2 separate regions of the Homo sapiens genome follow, and region 2 is linked to region 1. A link means that fine-mapping ties the variant in region 1 to the expression of a gene that starts in the linked region. Tissue or cell type: cerebellum. Region 1 holds a variant in brackets; the other region holds the start of a gene. All regions are shown on one strand. Distances are between the middles of the regions.

Region 1 (8,102 bases):
TAACCCCAGCTCCCCAACTTGGGCGCCACACCCACCAAATCCCTCTACGGAAACAGCCATCTGCCCTGGACTGGCCTCCAGCTAGTCTGTGAATTCGCTTCTCCTGAGCCACTGGCTTCACCATCCATGGCCGGCCAGGGATTCTGAAGTCTGATAGCTTCAGCTCAAAGGGAGAGCTGGAACTCACTCACTCACTCACCTCCTCCGCAAACATCTATTGGGTTAATCGGAGGGTTTACCGTGGGATTCTGTAGGCGCCTGTAGAAACAGAATTCCAGGCCGGGCGCGGTGGCTCACGTCTGTAATCCCAGCATTTTGGGAGGCCGAGGTGGGCGGATCACGAGGTCAGGAGATCGAGACCATACTGGCTAACGCGGTGAAACCCCGTCTCTACTAAAAACACAAAAAATTAGCCGGGCGCGGTGGCGGGCACCTGTAAACCCACCTACTCGGGAGGCTGACGCAGGAGAACGGCTGGAACCCGGGAGGCGGAGCTTGCAGTGAGTGGAGATCAGGCCACTGTGAGAGGTGACAGCGTGCTGGCAGTCCTCGCAGCCCTGGCTCGCTCTCCGCGCCTCCTCTGCTTGGGCTCCCACTTTGGTGGCACTTGAGGGGCTCTTCAGCCCACCGCTGCACTGTGGGAGCCCCTTTCTGGGCTGGCCAAGGCCGGAGCTGGCTCCCTCAGCTTGCGGGGAGGTGTGGAGGGAGAGGCGCGGGCGGGAACCGGGGCTGCGCGCGGTGCTGCGGGCCAGAGCGAGTTCCGGGTAGGCGTGGGCTCGGTGGGCCCAGCATTCAGAGTGGCCGGCCGGCCCTGCCGGCGCCGGGCTGTGAGGGGCTTAGCACCTGGGCCAGCAGCTGCTGTGTTCAATTTGTCACCGGGCCTTAGCTGCCTTCCCGCGGGGCAGGGCTCGGGACCTGCAGCCCGCCATGCCTGAGCCTCCCCCCGCCCATCGACCACCCAGGGGCTGACGAGTGAGGGCGCACGGCCCGGGACTGGCAGGCAGCTCCACCTGCAGCCCTGGTGCGGGATCCACTGGGTGAAGCCAGCTGGGCTCCTGAGTCTGGCGGGGACTTGGAGAACCTTTATGTCTAGCTAAGGGATTGTAAATACACCAATCGGCACTCTGTATCTACCTCAAGGTTTGTAAACACACCAATCAGCACCCTGTGTCTAGCTCAGGGTTTGTGAATGCACCAATCGACACTCTGTATCTAGCTACTCTGGTGGGGACTTGGAGAACTTTTGTGTCTAGCTCAGGGATTGTAAACGCACCAATCAGCACCCTGTCAAAACGGACCAATCAGCTCTCTGTAAAACCGACCAGTCGGCTCTCTGTAAAATGGACCAATCAGCAGGATGTGGGTGGGGCCAGATAAGGGAATAAAAGCAGGCTGCGGGAGGTAGCAGTGGTAACGCGGTGGGGTTGATCTTCCATGGTGTGAAGACTTCGTTCTTTCGCTCTTTGCAATGACTCTTGGTGCTACTCACTCTGGGTTCACGCTGCCTTTATGAGTTGTGAGACTCACCGCGAAGGTCTGTAGCTTCACAGCTGAAGCCATCGAGACCACGAACCCACCAGGAGGAACGAACAACTCCAGAAGCACCGCCTTAAAAGCTGTAACACCCACCGCGAAGATCTGCAGGTTCACTCCTGAGCTGCCGAGACCACGAACCCACCGGAAGAAAGAAACTTCGAACACATCCGAACATGAGAAATAACAAACTCCAGATACGCGTCTTTTAAGAACTGTAGCAATCACCGTGAGGGTCCGCGGCTTCATTCTTGAAGTGAGACCAAGAACCCACCAATTCCGGACGCAACTGCCCTCCAGCCTGGGCGACAGAGCGAGACTCCGTCTCAAAAAAAAAAAAAAAAAAAAAAAAAAAAAACAGAAACAATCCCACCCAGCTTTAGCAAGTCGGAGGAGGTGAGGCCCACTTTTCTACTTTCCTGATTGGAAGGAGAAGGAAGTGCACAGGCAGAGCGGGAGGCGGGGGGGCCGCCGGGTGGGGGGCGCCGGGGCGGGGGCGCCTGCCAGGCCCAAGGGCAGTGAGGGAGCAGCTGGACTGAGTAGAGAATTGCGGCGGGGTGGGGGGAGTTTTTTTTGTTTGTTGTTTCTTTACGTGTGTGCGTGTTTCAGAAGTGAAGACCAGAATTAGAGTGGTTATCTAAAGACAGATTTGAATCTGGGGTTTAGAAGAAAACAGCGGTGTTACAAATGAAAACAAAATGGGTCCTGTCTGAGAAGCCCCAGGAGAGAACACCTATATTATTAAAGGAAGCATGGACACTAGTGAGCCTTATATTTCTATTCTTTTTTTTTTTTCTCTGAGACAGAGTGTCGGTCTGTCGCCCAGGCTGGAGTGCAGTGGCGCGATCTCAGCTCACTGCAACCTCCGCCTCCCAGGTTCAAGCAATTCTCCTGCCTCCGCCTCCCAAGTATCTGCGATTACAGGCGCACGCCACCATGCCCGCCTAATTTTTGTATTTTTAGTAGAAACAGGGTTTCACCATGTTGGCCAGGCTGGTCTGAAACTCCTGACCTCAGATGATCTGCCCTCCTTGGCCTCCCAAACTGCTCTATTCTATTCTCTCTCCTGTCTCTCTCTTTTTTTTTTTTTTTTTTTGAGGCAGGGTCTCACTCTGTCATCCAGGTTGGAGTGCAGCAGCCCCATCATAGCTGACTGCAGCCTTGAACTCCTGGGCTCAAGCGATCTTCCCACCTCAGCCTCCCAAGTAGCTGGGAGGACAGCCACCGCTCCTGGCCTGAGTCTTCTATTGTCTTTCCTTTTCCTTTTGGTCTGGGGGGTTCCTCACCTTTTTCCTTTATCTAGATTAGTGGCGCATTTATACTCGAGTAAATGACTGTACTTTTTAAACTGCTATAATATTTTGAGGGGCAGGTTAGAGGAGTCATAAGCCTTAGTCCTAAAGAGCTTGTGTTACTTCAAGCATCAGTCACATAGGGGAGGGGACAGAGGATGGTCTCAAGTGTTCTGAAATCACTCTAATGTACGTAGAGGGGCCAACCAGAAGAGGGAAGCTATAGTGTCTAAAGAGTTCCTGAGCCTCTGATAAGGGGAGAGCATGTGACAACAGTGAAAATCCATTTAATGCCAAGGGGGTGGGGGGATTTAGAATTACTTGCCTGAGAA[G/A]CAACATCATCTCAGGTGGCAGCCAAGCCTTCATACTGGAAGCAGAGAAGAACCGCCTCCTCCCTAGTGATGCAGGGCTAGGGGCAGGATGGGCTGGCCTCTCTCCTAGGCACAGGCTGAGCCCTGCAGCCCCTCCCATGGGAGGAGCTGGCTATTTCCCTCCACCCTAGTGCTTTCAGGAACTCAGCCAGGCCCAGGCTCCCTCCCCTTCTCACCTTCCAGCTCTGCCGTAGGTCTGAGCTTCTGCCACAGTGGCCTCATTTCCCTTCTCATGCCCAACAGGTGCCCCAGGGCTCTGACCCACAGGTCACTTTATACAGAATCGTGCATTGCAAATTGTTTTTTCTATGTCCAGGAGATTCAAGAGTCATCTCAAATATGATTTGAACGGGAGTTTCTTTGAATTCATTATTGGTAACTGGCTAATCAATAAAATTCCCCCTGGACATGAAGAAGACAAGACAGGATTCGCCCCTGGTCAGAGTTTTACAGAGGGTTTTTTTTTCCTTTTTTTCCCCCCCCCCCCCCCCCGAGATGGAGTCTCGCTCTGTTGCCAGGCTGGAGTGCAGTGACGCGATCTCGGCTTACTGCATCCTCCACCTCCCGTGTTCAAGCAATTCTTGTTCCTCAGCCTCCCAAGTAGCTGGGATTACAGGCACACGCCACCACGCCCAGCTAATTTTTTGTTTTGTATTTTCAGTAGAGACGGGGTTTCACTATGTTGGCCAGGCTGGTTTCGATCATCTGACCTCGTGATCTGCCTGCCTCAGTCTCCCAAAGTGCTGGGATTACAGGCATGAGCCACCGCGCCCGGCCTTACGGAGGTTTTCTTCATGACTTGTTTCCTTTTCTTCATTTCATGCTCCAGTTTCATTATTTTAGTGAATTTGAGCTGAGAGTAGCTCCAAACCACATAATGAAGAATATTCTACTTCAATTACAGTTACCCATTGTTCTGTGGGGTCTGGGGTGCATGGATAAAGATATTAACCTGGCTTCATAATGATGGCAAGAGGGGAAAGGGACGTAGATTTCAACTGGTCTGGGTTCATGTGTGTACACACACACGCACACGAGCACATAAGCCTTATTAAGATGCACTGTGGAATAATACAAAGGTACAGGGAGAACAGGCGTATTTACAGGCTGTAAGTGGGAATGTAATGTAACATTTTCTATACCAAAACCCTTAAAAATATGAGTACCCAACAATTCTGTCATCAGATTTCCCTTAAGGAAATTAGACAAGGATACTAAGATGGATATTCAAAAATGTTTGTTCCAGATTGTTTATAATAGCAAAAAAATGCAAACAACTTGAAAGTCCGGAAATAATCTGAGTTCTTAATTGGAAGCAACAGAAATCATTGCTAAGGTAGACAGGAAAGGGTTTTATTAAAAGGACAGGATATGGCTTTAGGTGGTGTAGCCAGGAAGAGCGGGTGCCTGAAAGCCTGGGCAGGACTGGGGCAGTGGACTCACTTCTACAGTGTGCACCTCCAATCCTACAGGCGCCAAACACTGCGTATCACCACCAGCCCCACGGCCACCAGCTGCTCAGGGATGTGCCATCTTGCTGAAGCCTCTGCCTCTGCCAGACTGGGTTCCTCCAGGGCCTCTGCTTTTGCACCCCCAGCTCCTAGTTCCAAGCCTGGTGTGGGTGCATGTGATGGGCAGGGACTGGATCCCATGCCTGTAAGCTAGTGACAAGAGAGTCAGGAAAACTGACGTGGGGCTTTCAGCAACTACAGTGGGAGGCTTCCACTAGAAGGGAATTGGGATGCTGAGAAGCTAAAGAGACTGACAAATGTGCACTAGATTAAGAAATAGAAAAATAAATTACGATACCTGAATACAAGTGAGATATTGTAAGGGAGCAGAATCTAAATCTACAAACTTGGTTTTTCTATCGATACATGATTTTTATTCCAAGTGCTCAGCTGGAGTGGGAGTAGTTATGGCAAATTAATCTCAGGGAGTTGTGATTCTTCTGTGGGGTGTATCTAAATTTTGGGGTCTTACACAGTGCAACAGCAAGGACCCTCTGCTGTAAATTGGCTTATTGTGATGAGACAGTCTATCGTCCCACCCTGACAGCTGGGCTTGGGCTGGGGAAAGGCACAGGGCACCCTTGCTTTAGTATCCACATGAGCTGTGCTGCTGCACGCTCCTCCCTCCTGCTCTTGCTCTCCTCCACCCACACCTGGAAGCCTTTATCTAGTGCCAAGCATGAGGACTTGCTCAGACTCATATTCTGCCAAATCTATTGATTATGCCTGAGTTCTTTCTGCTCTCCCCAGGGGCGCAGCTAGACCATGCCCAGCCATATTCATCTCTTTTATGGGGCAGTGAATAGAGAATGCCCTGGTTGACTGACCTGGGAAAGAACCGAGAAATTGGAGCAGACTTTTCAAAATAATATTCCTTGGCTGGGCGTGGTGGCTCACGCTTGTAATTCCAGAACTTTGGGAGGCCAAGGCAGGTGGATCATGAGGTCAGGAGTTCGAGAACAGCATGTCCAACATAGTGAAACCCCGTCTCTACTAACAATACAAAAATTAGCTGGGTGTAGTGACTCGTGCCTGTAGTCCCAGCTACTCGGGGAGGCTGAGGCAGAAGAATCGCTTGAACCTGGGAGGCAGAGGTTGCAGTGAGCCGAGATCGCGCCACTGCACTCCAGACTGGTGACAGAGCGAGACTCCGTCTCAAAAAATATATGATGATGATAATATCCCTTGACTCTCTATACCTATTGCTAATTTTTTTCCAGAAAGGTAAAATCATGACTCATACTAATACAAAATGAACACATCTTAAAGACTTTATTTAACTCGTTAACTACTGAGAGAACCAGTAAGATATAAAAACTGTTTCCGCGGAGAATCCAAAAAAACAAACACGTATGTAGATGACCAGGAATGCGGAAATGAATTACTAAGAGATGGCCTCTTTCACTGAATGAAATGAATTGCATCTTTAATGGGAAATGTATTTACATGTTTATAAGCTGGAATAATTTGCAATCACAGACAATGAAAGGTGCAGACCATATAGAATCAGATAACCCGGTAAAGTCTAAGCCTTGCTTTCCACAGAAAAGATATGTATTCATTTTCTAGGTCTGAGAATCACAACACAGAATGGGTTGGTTGGTTAGTATTTTTTGTAGAGACAGGGTCTCAGTATGTTGCCTAGGCAGGTCTCAAACTCCGGGGCTCAAGACATCCTACCTCAGCCTCCTAAAGTGCTGGGATTATAGGCATGAGCCACCTCACCTGAACTGGGTGTTTAAAACAACAGAAATTTGTCTCAAAATTTTGGAGGCTAGAAGTGCAAAATCAAGGTGTTGGCAGGGCTTGGCTCGCTCTAGGCTCCAGGGAAGCCTCCTTCTTTGCCTCTTCTGGCTCCTGCTGGTTTCTGGCAATTCTTGGCTTCTCTGGCTTGTAGATGCATCACTGCAATCTCTGCCTCCATAGACACGTGGCATTCTCCCCATGTCCAGATTTCCCACTTACTAGGACATCGGTCATATTGGATAAAGGCTCATTCTAATGACCTCATCTTAACTTGATTAAATCTGCAAAGACCCTATTTCCAAATAAGGTCACATTCACAGTACTGAGGGTTAGGACTTCAATATATGTCACTTTGGGGAGTGACACAATTTAACCCATAAGAGTGTTAAAGAGGCTGGGCACGGTGGCTCACGCCTGTAATCCCAGCACTTTGGGAGACCAAGGCGGGCGGATCACGAGGTCAGGAGATTGAGACCATCCCGGCCAACATGGTGAAACCCTGTCTCTACTGAAAATACAAAAAAATTAGCTGGGTGTGGTGGTGTGTACCTGTAATCCCAGCTACTCGGGAGGCTGAGGGACAAGAATCACTTGAACCCAGGAGGCAGAGGTTGCAGTGAGCCGAGATCGCGCCACTGCACTCCAGCTGGGCAGCAGAGCTAGACTCTGTCCAAAAAAAAAAAAAAAAAAAAGTGTTAAAGAAAAACTGAAGACAAATTAAATTGAATAGCATTTAACCGAGCAAAGAATGATTCACTAATCATGAGTCCCCCCAAACAAGAATAGGTTCAGAGAGACTCCAGGGCTGCCATATTTATGGACCAAAAACAGAAAGTGATGTACAGAAAATGAAAGTGAGGCACGGAAACAGCTGATTGGTTACAGCTCAACGTTTGCCTTATTTGAGCATGGTTTGAATAGTTGGCCACCTGTGATTGGCTGAAACTCTGTGATTGGCACACGAGTAGGTTACAGTCTCTTTACACATCCAGTTTGGCTGGAGTTTACTATCTATGGAGAAACGCTTAGGCCGAACTTAAAATATGTAAGGAGGGAGCTTTAGGGTTAACTTAATGTAACAATAGATACCCAGTAATCTTTTTGTCCGGTAAAACATTTTCTACAATTTTCCTGACTTCCCTTGCCCTCTTTTTGATCATCATAATCTCCAAAACTTTTCTTGATGGCAATACACAAAACACCAGTCTCACTAGATATGTGCTAATTATTTACATGGGTGCAACAAGAATGTTAATCACATAAGCCTCTTTCTGTTTGCTTTGCAAATCCAGAGCCATATAGTATTAGCATCTAAGGCCAGAAAATTAACTTCTGTCTTTAGGTTTTCATTGGGAATCAAAGACTCAATTAATTAATTTGTTGATTTATTAGGTCTTGCTCTGTCTGCCGGGCTGTAGTGAAGTGGCATGATCACGGCTCACTGCAGTCCTAACCTCCCAGGCTCAAGCAATGCTCCCACCTCAGTCTCCCAAGTAGCTGGGACTACAGGCACTCACCTCCACACCTGGCTAATTTTTGTATATTTTGTTGAGACAGGGTCTCACTATGTTGCCTAAGCTGGTCTCAAACTCATAGGTTCAAACAATCCTCCTGCCTTGGCCACCCAAAGTGCTAGGATTATAGGCATG
Region 2 (8,102 bases), 31 kb after region 1:
AGGACTCATTATATTGCCCAGGCTGATCTCAAACTCCTGGGCTTTGTGATCCTCCCACCTTGACCTCCTAAAGTGCTGGGATTATAGGCATGAACTACTGCACCTGGCCTCACTTTTTTTTTTTAATGGCTAACTAGACTTCACAATGTGTTCCCCACACTAGGGTTGTCACTGAGAAGTATAAGGAGCAAAAAAAGGTGAAAAGAGAAGGATGAGGAGGAAACTTAATATTATACAAAGCTCCTGGGAATACTGGAGAGCCCCTTTCCCGGGGGCACTTCGAGGAGGAACAGGTTGCCGCTGCAGAGGAAGGAACATCTGGGTTCCATGACTTGGCAACAGGCTCTCCTTGAGGGTCACTCACCGTCACAGGCTCTCTCTGCACTGGAGATCCGGCCTTCTGGAGGCTGGCAGGGAGGACGTGCTGAAGCAGGAAGGGCTCAGCTTTGCACCAGGCAGATGTCCTTTGGAATCCTGGCTCTGCTGCTTACAGCAGTGTGACTTCGCAGGCAAATCGTTTAACCTCTCTAAATCCAGATAGCCTCATTTGTAAGAAATGAGCAATGCTACCTCCTGTGTGGAGTAGCAAGGATTAAATGATGTGTTGTAAAACACCAAATAGACCCGGGCTCATAATAGGAGTTCAGACAGTGCGATTTTCCTCCCTCCTCCTTTCATGGTGGTCTTTAACTTGTATTTATTCTGAAGTTTGTTAAGGCTGTTGGGAACTCAGAACACATTTACTCATAAAAACCAGTAGCCCTGGGCTTTGTGAGGTCTGACCCCCAACCCCTGCCTAACTCACCATCCCCATTCTCTTCCCATCACCCTCATTCAGGGACTTGACTTTCAAGACATGGTGGGTTCTTCTGCTGTCTTCCAAATACCCGCTTGGGTTCCCCACCCATAAGCTTTTGCTCCTTCACCCCAGAATCTCAGACCTTTGCTTAGAACTGTCCATCAAATCAATATCCAGGTGAAATCCAAATTCTAGCTCCTCCATCTCCCAGTGTTATGCAGAACTGCTTTCTTTCTCGTCTGAATTCTTATTCTACTTTATCTGACCGAGTAGTAATATGAGCTTTATAATAAAAATCACAACATATTGCCTTTTGTGGCTGTTACTGTGGGGAGTGTCACATATTCTTATATCCCTCACACTGTTCAATAACCACTTTCTGTGGGATAAATAATAATAGCTGCATTTGTTGCATGCACACTATGCCAGGCAATGTGCTATGGCCTTTATCTACCTTTCTTCATTTAATTTCCACGACAAGGTTAAAAGAATGTATATGACCCCAGTATTCTGGGTGGAGCTAAGGGTCAGATGGAGTAAGTCACTTTCTCAAGGTCAAGTCGGCAGAAACTGAAGGAGCAAGGATTCCAACCCAGCAATGCGGGACTCCCAGCTCTGTGCTCTTTCTACTTCCCAGGAAACGGAGCCTAAGTTAGCAACAACAAACCGAAGTCGAGGACTGAGGACATATGCAACCCCCGGTTTGGGTGCAACCTTTATCAATATCCTAAACTGACAGATGACGTAGAGGCAGCCGTTTCGCTGACTAGGGAAGGTAGCCCAAGAAAGCTAAGATGCTAGAATCCAAATTTAAGGTCTACGAGACGCTGCAGAAAACATTTACAGTCACTAGAGGGCTCTCTCTCCCTTAAGCAAAAAGCGCAGCACCGCCCGCGCGCGGTAGTCTCGGAACCCCGCCGCCGGGAGGCCGCTGGCAGCTCCACGCCACCTCCCTGAAGCCCAGTCCATTTTGCCTACATCCCTGTCCGGGCAAGCCCTGGAGAATCCATAGGGCAGTGCCCCAAGCTGGAGCAGTTTTCACAGCCACATCCCGGGCTGCACTGGGTTAGGGATGCTTTGAGGTTCCTCTGGGGGCTCCCTGCTCTCTGCTTACCAAGCAGGCGGGAGTTGGGAAGGGGAGAAGGAGTGCAGACTCAGGGGTGGGGTAATCCAGAAATGCATCCCTCAAAGGCCAGCCTGGCCTGGTCCAGGCCCTAAGCTCTCTGGGGAAGGACGGCAGGGAACCCCGCCTTGGCGGGCTCTGCGGGTCCTGCGCCCGGGTAGATTTTGCTGAGATGGGGAGAGGGGACCCCCTCCACGCCCCCGGAGTAGTGAACACCATTTTGTTTGAAAGTATCCTGCAAAGAGAACCACCTCACGAGGCCATGGCTGCCAGGGGACTCCTCTCCCCACCGGATCGCCGGGGAGCCCGGGGAGGGAGGGATTCTGCAGCTGCAGCTTGGAGGTCCTTGATGCTGCATTTTAACGCGCATCGCAACGCCTTTGGAGTGACATTAAGTGCAAAGAGGCAAATGACTAATCCAAACTATTATTACAACTGCAGAAAATAACACAGATCAATGGCAAAGGCTTGAACCGGGATTAGCTAGGGAGGTGGGACAAACCGGGGATGATCCTTCCTCTCCTTTTTTAGATTTGTTTATTTTGGTAAATTATGTATGTATTTAAACATGAAGAAACAGGTGAAGCGAATGTAAATTGGGTTATAAATAATTTCCAAAGGCTTCGCTGTCCCTTGACAGAAGCCAGAAATAAGACAGGCACTGGGCCTGAGCGCTCTGGACAGGGAAGCACCCGCGTGGCGCTGGGCAAAATCTTCTCAGTGGAGAGAACGCACTCCGGGTTCGAGACCTCCCCGGGTGCAGATGCGAACTGCGGTGGCCCCAAGTGGCCGTCCACTTTGTTCATGAGAACAGTTTTCCTATAACGCCCACCCGGCCCTTTGCATCCCGCAATCCCGCGGGCGTCGGAGCGGGTCTTGGCGCGAACCAGGCGGCCTCGGCGGGGTCCTGCGGCGGAGGGCAGCGCGGCCGCAGCCCGGGAGAGGCGGCCGCGGCATTGTTTCAGCCCCTGGGGTGGGATCCAGCTGGGGGAGGGGAGGCGGGGTGTCCTCCGGAACCGCCCCCGGCCCTCCCTGGGGACCCGTGCCTCAGCGCGTCCAGGCTTTGTGGTGTCCTGAGTCGCCATGGAAACCCGAGGGAACGCGGAGCCGGGTGCTAGGGGGGTCGGTGAGTTCTCCGGCCGCGCCCTCCGTCCGCTCTCGGACCCCGGCCCTGCAGCAGGGCCTGCCGGGAGTTGTAGTCCCCAGGCGGCGGCGGCGCGCGGCGCCAAGGATGCGGGACGCCGCCTGTCCCCGCCTCCCCTTAACCTGCTAGCTGAGGTGGGGAGCGGCGGGAGGAGCCGGCCGCGCGGTGATTGGCGGAGGCCGCTCCCAGCCCCCGACACGCGCCCCTCCCCCGCTCCCCACTCTGGACTCCCGCGCTGGGCGCGCTGAGGCGGCCCCCGAGCGAGCGCGCGTGCAGCCGCCGCCGCCCCGAGCACCCGCAGCTCCGGCGCCGCGGCGAGACGGAGACGGACCGAGCCACGGGCCCCCGCGGCCGCAGCATCTCGGAGGAGTGGGTGATGGCAGGGGGGTCGGTGGGCTTACCCCTCCCGGGCTAGGACATCCTCCTCTCCCCCTTCTGTTTCTGCGTGAGGCGCACAAAAGGGCGGGGAGCCGGGTGAGCCTGGGGCCCGGCCGCAGGGGACGCGGCGGGAGGTGTGGTTTGGGGTTGGGAGGTGGCCATCGGGGCTAAGCCGGGGCGCTCTTGGGGTCCTCTTTGTACGCCCGCGAAGCGCCGTGCCGGGCCTTGCTCATAGTAAGCGTTTAATGCGTGCTCGCGGGGTTGCAAAGCCCTGGGGTGAGGAGGCGGCTCGGCCGAGGGGTTTCGCGCCTAGCACGCAGTGGGCCGCTTTCCTAGCCGGGCGCGGTGCAGTGGACCGCTGGAGGGCTGGGCGGGGGCGCCTCTGGCCGGGGGCCAGTCCTGCCGGTCCCAGGATCTGCGCTGTCCCCGGTCCCACACACCACCCAGATACACACCCTCCGTCCTTCTCGCCTCCGAGCTGGGATCTGCCCAGCCTGGACCCGACCCGGCGGTCTGTTCCACCGCCCGGCTAACGGAGCGGACGCCTGCAGAGGACTCGCCCGCCGCCTCCGAGCCTCCCGCCTGAGCCACAAAGGCCTCCTGCGGCTGCCCAGCCCGGAGCGGGCGCCGAGCCGGGTCCCTCGGCTGGAGCCCAGCGCGGGAGCCCGCCTTGCAGCATCGATCTCAGCGGGCACCGACGTCGACGCCCCGGGCCTGGGGACGGGGCTGTAGTCTGAGCTGGAGAGAAGCCGGGAGAGGGCGAGGGGAGGCCTCGGTTGAGAAAAGATGGGGATGGGGAAGGCTGGGGAGCTGGGTTAGGACAGGTAGTGGGTCTCGGGGAGCAGGGAGTGGGAACTAGGGTTTGAGGAGGAAAGAGAAGGGGCGGGGGCGGGTCCGAAGAACGAGGGAAGGAGCTCGGTGCAGGTGGCGCCCGGCGAGGCTGGTTCTGCTGAAGAATGGGGAGGGGAGGAGGGATGCAGGCGGGTGGAGGCCGCCTGGGTTTGAGGAGGGAGGACGGGAGCGAGGAGAAGACCCGCGCTGTGCGGGGGAGGGGGGCCTCCTGGGAAGGGGAGCCTCCCGAGGAGGGAGGGGCAAGCAGCTGAGAGGCGGTCTCGGGCCCGAGGATCCTCAGCTCCAGGCGCGGGGCCCCGCGGCCCAGGTGGCCGGCTGGGCGTGGCCCTCGGACCGGGGTTAGGGACCCAGGATGGCAGATCCGGGACCGGGCTGGGCTGGCTTGGTGAGGAGCTTTGTCTCCAGGCTTGAAACCAGCCGGTAGCGACTCGCTTAGGGTTTTGTGATCTTCCGCGGCGCCCACGGCACGCCCTTTTCTCGAGGAGCTGAAAGGCTTTGCCCAGCAGCAGGTGCTGCCAGGGAGGCGGATCTCCCTTCGGGGAGACCCGGAGAACAATAGCCGACCCTGGTGTCCATCCGACGACAAACCAGGGCCACCCAGGACGCGAGGGTGCAGTTTTCTGGTGCTGGGAATACTCCCTGCGGAACCTCCGGGCACGTGCTGGCTTTGGGGTTTTATGGGGGCCTGGCCACGCCGGGAATCCCGTGTGGGAGGCGCTCCCCCGGCCTGGGGGCCTGCAGACAGCCACCCCCCCACTCCGGCTCGGGTGCCTTCTGGTGCAGCGCCGCCGCCCGCCCCGCGCTGTCCACCCGCTGCCGAGACGCGGCGTGGTTAGCGGCGCGGAGCTGCCGGGCGGCGACGCAGGTGCCAAAGACTGGAGGTCGCCTCGGTGCAGCGCGGGTTCCCCCGAGCAGCGGCTTTGTCTGCCGAGGCGGCCGTAGTCTAGGGGCTGCAGCTGTGCTTTCTCAGGGGGAGCCGTAAGGGCTGGTGCGGATTGTGGTCAAATTGCGGAGAAGCGGGTGGAAATGATCCCGCAAGGGTGAGGCTCTAGGTTTGGGAGCCGCTGCTAGGGGTCCAGTGCTTTTCTTTGCCAGTGACCACACCCAAGCCAGTGCGTCTCTTGCAGACTTCGCCCATATTGTCTGCTGACCTAAGACTGGGGTAGCTCTGTGATAGGCGCTGCTTGCCCGTGGGAAAGCAGATGAACCGAATGGAAGCTTAAAACAGGCTTTCAGCAGGGCTTTCCACGCACTCAGCCTCTCGCCCGCCGTCTAAACACCTTGCAAGTCACCGCTGCAGCGCCTTGACATGTGAAGTGACACCCAAAGCCAGAATTCTGTGTTGCACTGTTGCTTTGATAACTGGTTAGATGACAAGTTAAAGGTGAATCTTTAGCATAAAGTTATCATTTTAAATTGCCATTCATTAAAAAAAAAGGCAGGAATGTTTTTGTTCCCAGACTGGGCGATACTTGGCATTGTAGAACTCATTGATGCCACTTACATTTGCCACTAAGTTAACTGAGAACCTGTTGGTTCTCTTAACCCAGCCTTGAAATCTCAGGATTTGCTTTCTTAACAAGATTAGTGTGTAAGGTGAAGGACTGTGCTGTGGCTGTTGGCTTTTGCCCAGGACAGATGATAGCTGTCAAAGTGAAGGCCTCTTGTCTGAGTGTCCTTTCTGGCCATAGGGAGTCAGCAGTAGGCTATGTCTTGCTGGTTTTAAAGGATGGTGTTTTGAGGAGGTGCCTCACAGAATTTACAAAACTGATCTGGAAGGACTAGCTGGAACATTGCTCATTGGTTGTTTTTAACTATATTTTAACTGAATTATATATATGTATATATTAATATGTATATACACACATATATATATACACATACTATATTTTACTAAATTATATATGCATGTGTGTATTTATGCATACACACAAACATGGATTCAGAGTACATAAATACTAGGAATCTCAATATTAGAAACCTAGAAATCTGACAGTGAAGGTTTTTTCTTGTAAGAGAGCTCCAATGGGAAACATGTTTTCATATTATTACCCAAAGGGAACAATTTCAGGAAGGAGTGTTTTGTTGGCTTCTTTTTTGTAATAATTTTATGGATTTTTAAAAGGATGTAATCTTCTTAAAGCACTCTGTGAACATCCATTGCAGTCTGTTCCTCATGGCAGGGAATCCATAGACAAGGAATGCCGGTATGACCAGCCTGACGTGAAGGCCTGGCTGTTGTCAGCGTAACCTCTCTAGGTGCAAACATTAGCAGGGTTGTTGCATTATTCTTAATGCTTCTATCTCTGGAAAGAGTTCCACAGCAAGGCAAGTTTACACAGTTGGCCAAAATCAGGTCTCAGGACTTGGCGTAAACTTCATTTGTGGCACTTCCACGTCTCTTCTCCTGCCATAGCTATCTGAGAATTTCCCCTTAATAGCTTCTCTGACCCAGGATTCTGTATGATCCTGCATTAGCTCCACGGGACTATAAGCCAAAGGACAGCATGACTATAGGCAGGTCTCTGGGGTAAAAGTAAATTGTGGCCAGGCACAGTGGATCACGCCTGTAATCCCAACACTTTGGGAGGCTGAGACAGGAGGATCACTTGAGGTCAGGAGTTCGAGACCAGCCTGGCCAACATGGTGAAACTCCATCTCTACTAAAAATACAAAAAAATTAGCCTGACGTGGTGGCGCACACCTGTAGTCCCAGCTACTTGGGAGGAGGCTGAGGTGGAGAATCACTTGAACCTGGGAGGCCGAGGTTGCAGTGAGCTGAGATCGTGCCACTGCACTCCAGCCTGGGCAACAGAGTGAGACTCTATCTCAAAAAAAAAAATGTGAATTGTGTGTTCAGATCATTTTCTTGGGGCATAGAAAAATATTGAGAGCCAGAGAAGTTGGACAAGAGTATCTGAGACCCAGTCTATCTTCCTGGTGTGAAAATTTACCAGTTTCTGATAGAATCTGATCTTGTGTATCTTTTTTGTTTTCTGAGGTATAAAAACATATTCCAGAAAAGTCTTCTAAGACTTAATTCACAGGAATCCTGTAGAACAAGATATCTTTGTCAACATGAAGTCCTGTAGGGAAAACTTGGTGTAATATGGGAGCAAATAAGAATAAATGTGTTTTATCATTTTTCCAATAAGCAGGTGTTTGATTTCATTGCACTGCTGGTGCATAAATGAGAAATAATTTCAAAATCGCTTTGCCTTGCTTTTTTTTATGTGAAGATGAAAGGTTGAAATACCATAACATGAATCTTTTGTGAGCTTTGGTATTTATGTATAAAAGTGGGCACAAATTATACACTTGAACAAAAGAAATTCAGGGAGGAACATGGTGTATGATTTGTTCTACTTCAGTCTTTGAAACTTGTTTCATTTAAAATAAGCTGATTTAACCATTGATTGAACCCGAGCTTGCCAAGCACTCCCATCAATCACAGCCCTGTTCTGTACTTGTTCCCTCGCCTCCCTCCTCCCTCGTCACAATCCAGGCTCAGCGGTAGCGTGTACAGGAGGGAGAGCCAGAAAGCCTGGGTTCAGATTTCACCTTGGCCACTTTCTGTTTATCTGTGCAATGAGGATGGTTGTATTAGGTTGGTGCAGAAGTAATTGCTGTTTTTGCCATTACTTTTAATGACAAAAACTGCCGTGACTTCTGCACCAACTTAACAGTATCTACATCTGGGGTTGTTCTGAGGCTTACATGTGTTAATGGTTAGCACTGAGAGCAGCATCTGGCATCTTGTAAGTGCTCAGTAAAAGTTATCATCACCATCAGCAGCAGCATCATAT

Direction of the effects. Alleles are on the strand shown, and positions count from the first base shown. SD is a standard deviation of normalised expression in the study named.
As copies of A replace G in region 1, the expression in cerebellum of the gene that starts at base 3,313 in region 2 goes down (small effect, 0.37 SD a copy in GTEx).

What was found. PIP is the estimated chance that this variant, and not a neighbour inherited with it, causes the effect.
Region 2: it holds the start of DPYSL5, and the variant in region 1 is fine-mapped to the expression of DPYSL5 in cerebellum (GTEx, PIP 0.94).

The regions. Positions count from the first base shown.
Region 1 is chr2:26,813,767-26,821,868 of GRCh38, forward strand. No RefSeq gene overlaps it. Among named protein-coding and RNA genes, the nearest start is that of DPYSL5, 30 kb to the right of the region's middle. The variant G/A (reference allele first, on the strand shown) is at 3,158.
Region 2 is chr2:26,844,820-26,852,921 of GRCh38, forward strand. It overlaps DPYSL5 (dihydropyrimidinase like 5), which reads left to right and starts at 3,313. Exons shown (of 13, transcript NM_020134.4): 1 at 3,313-3,435.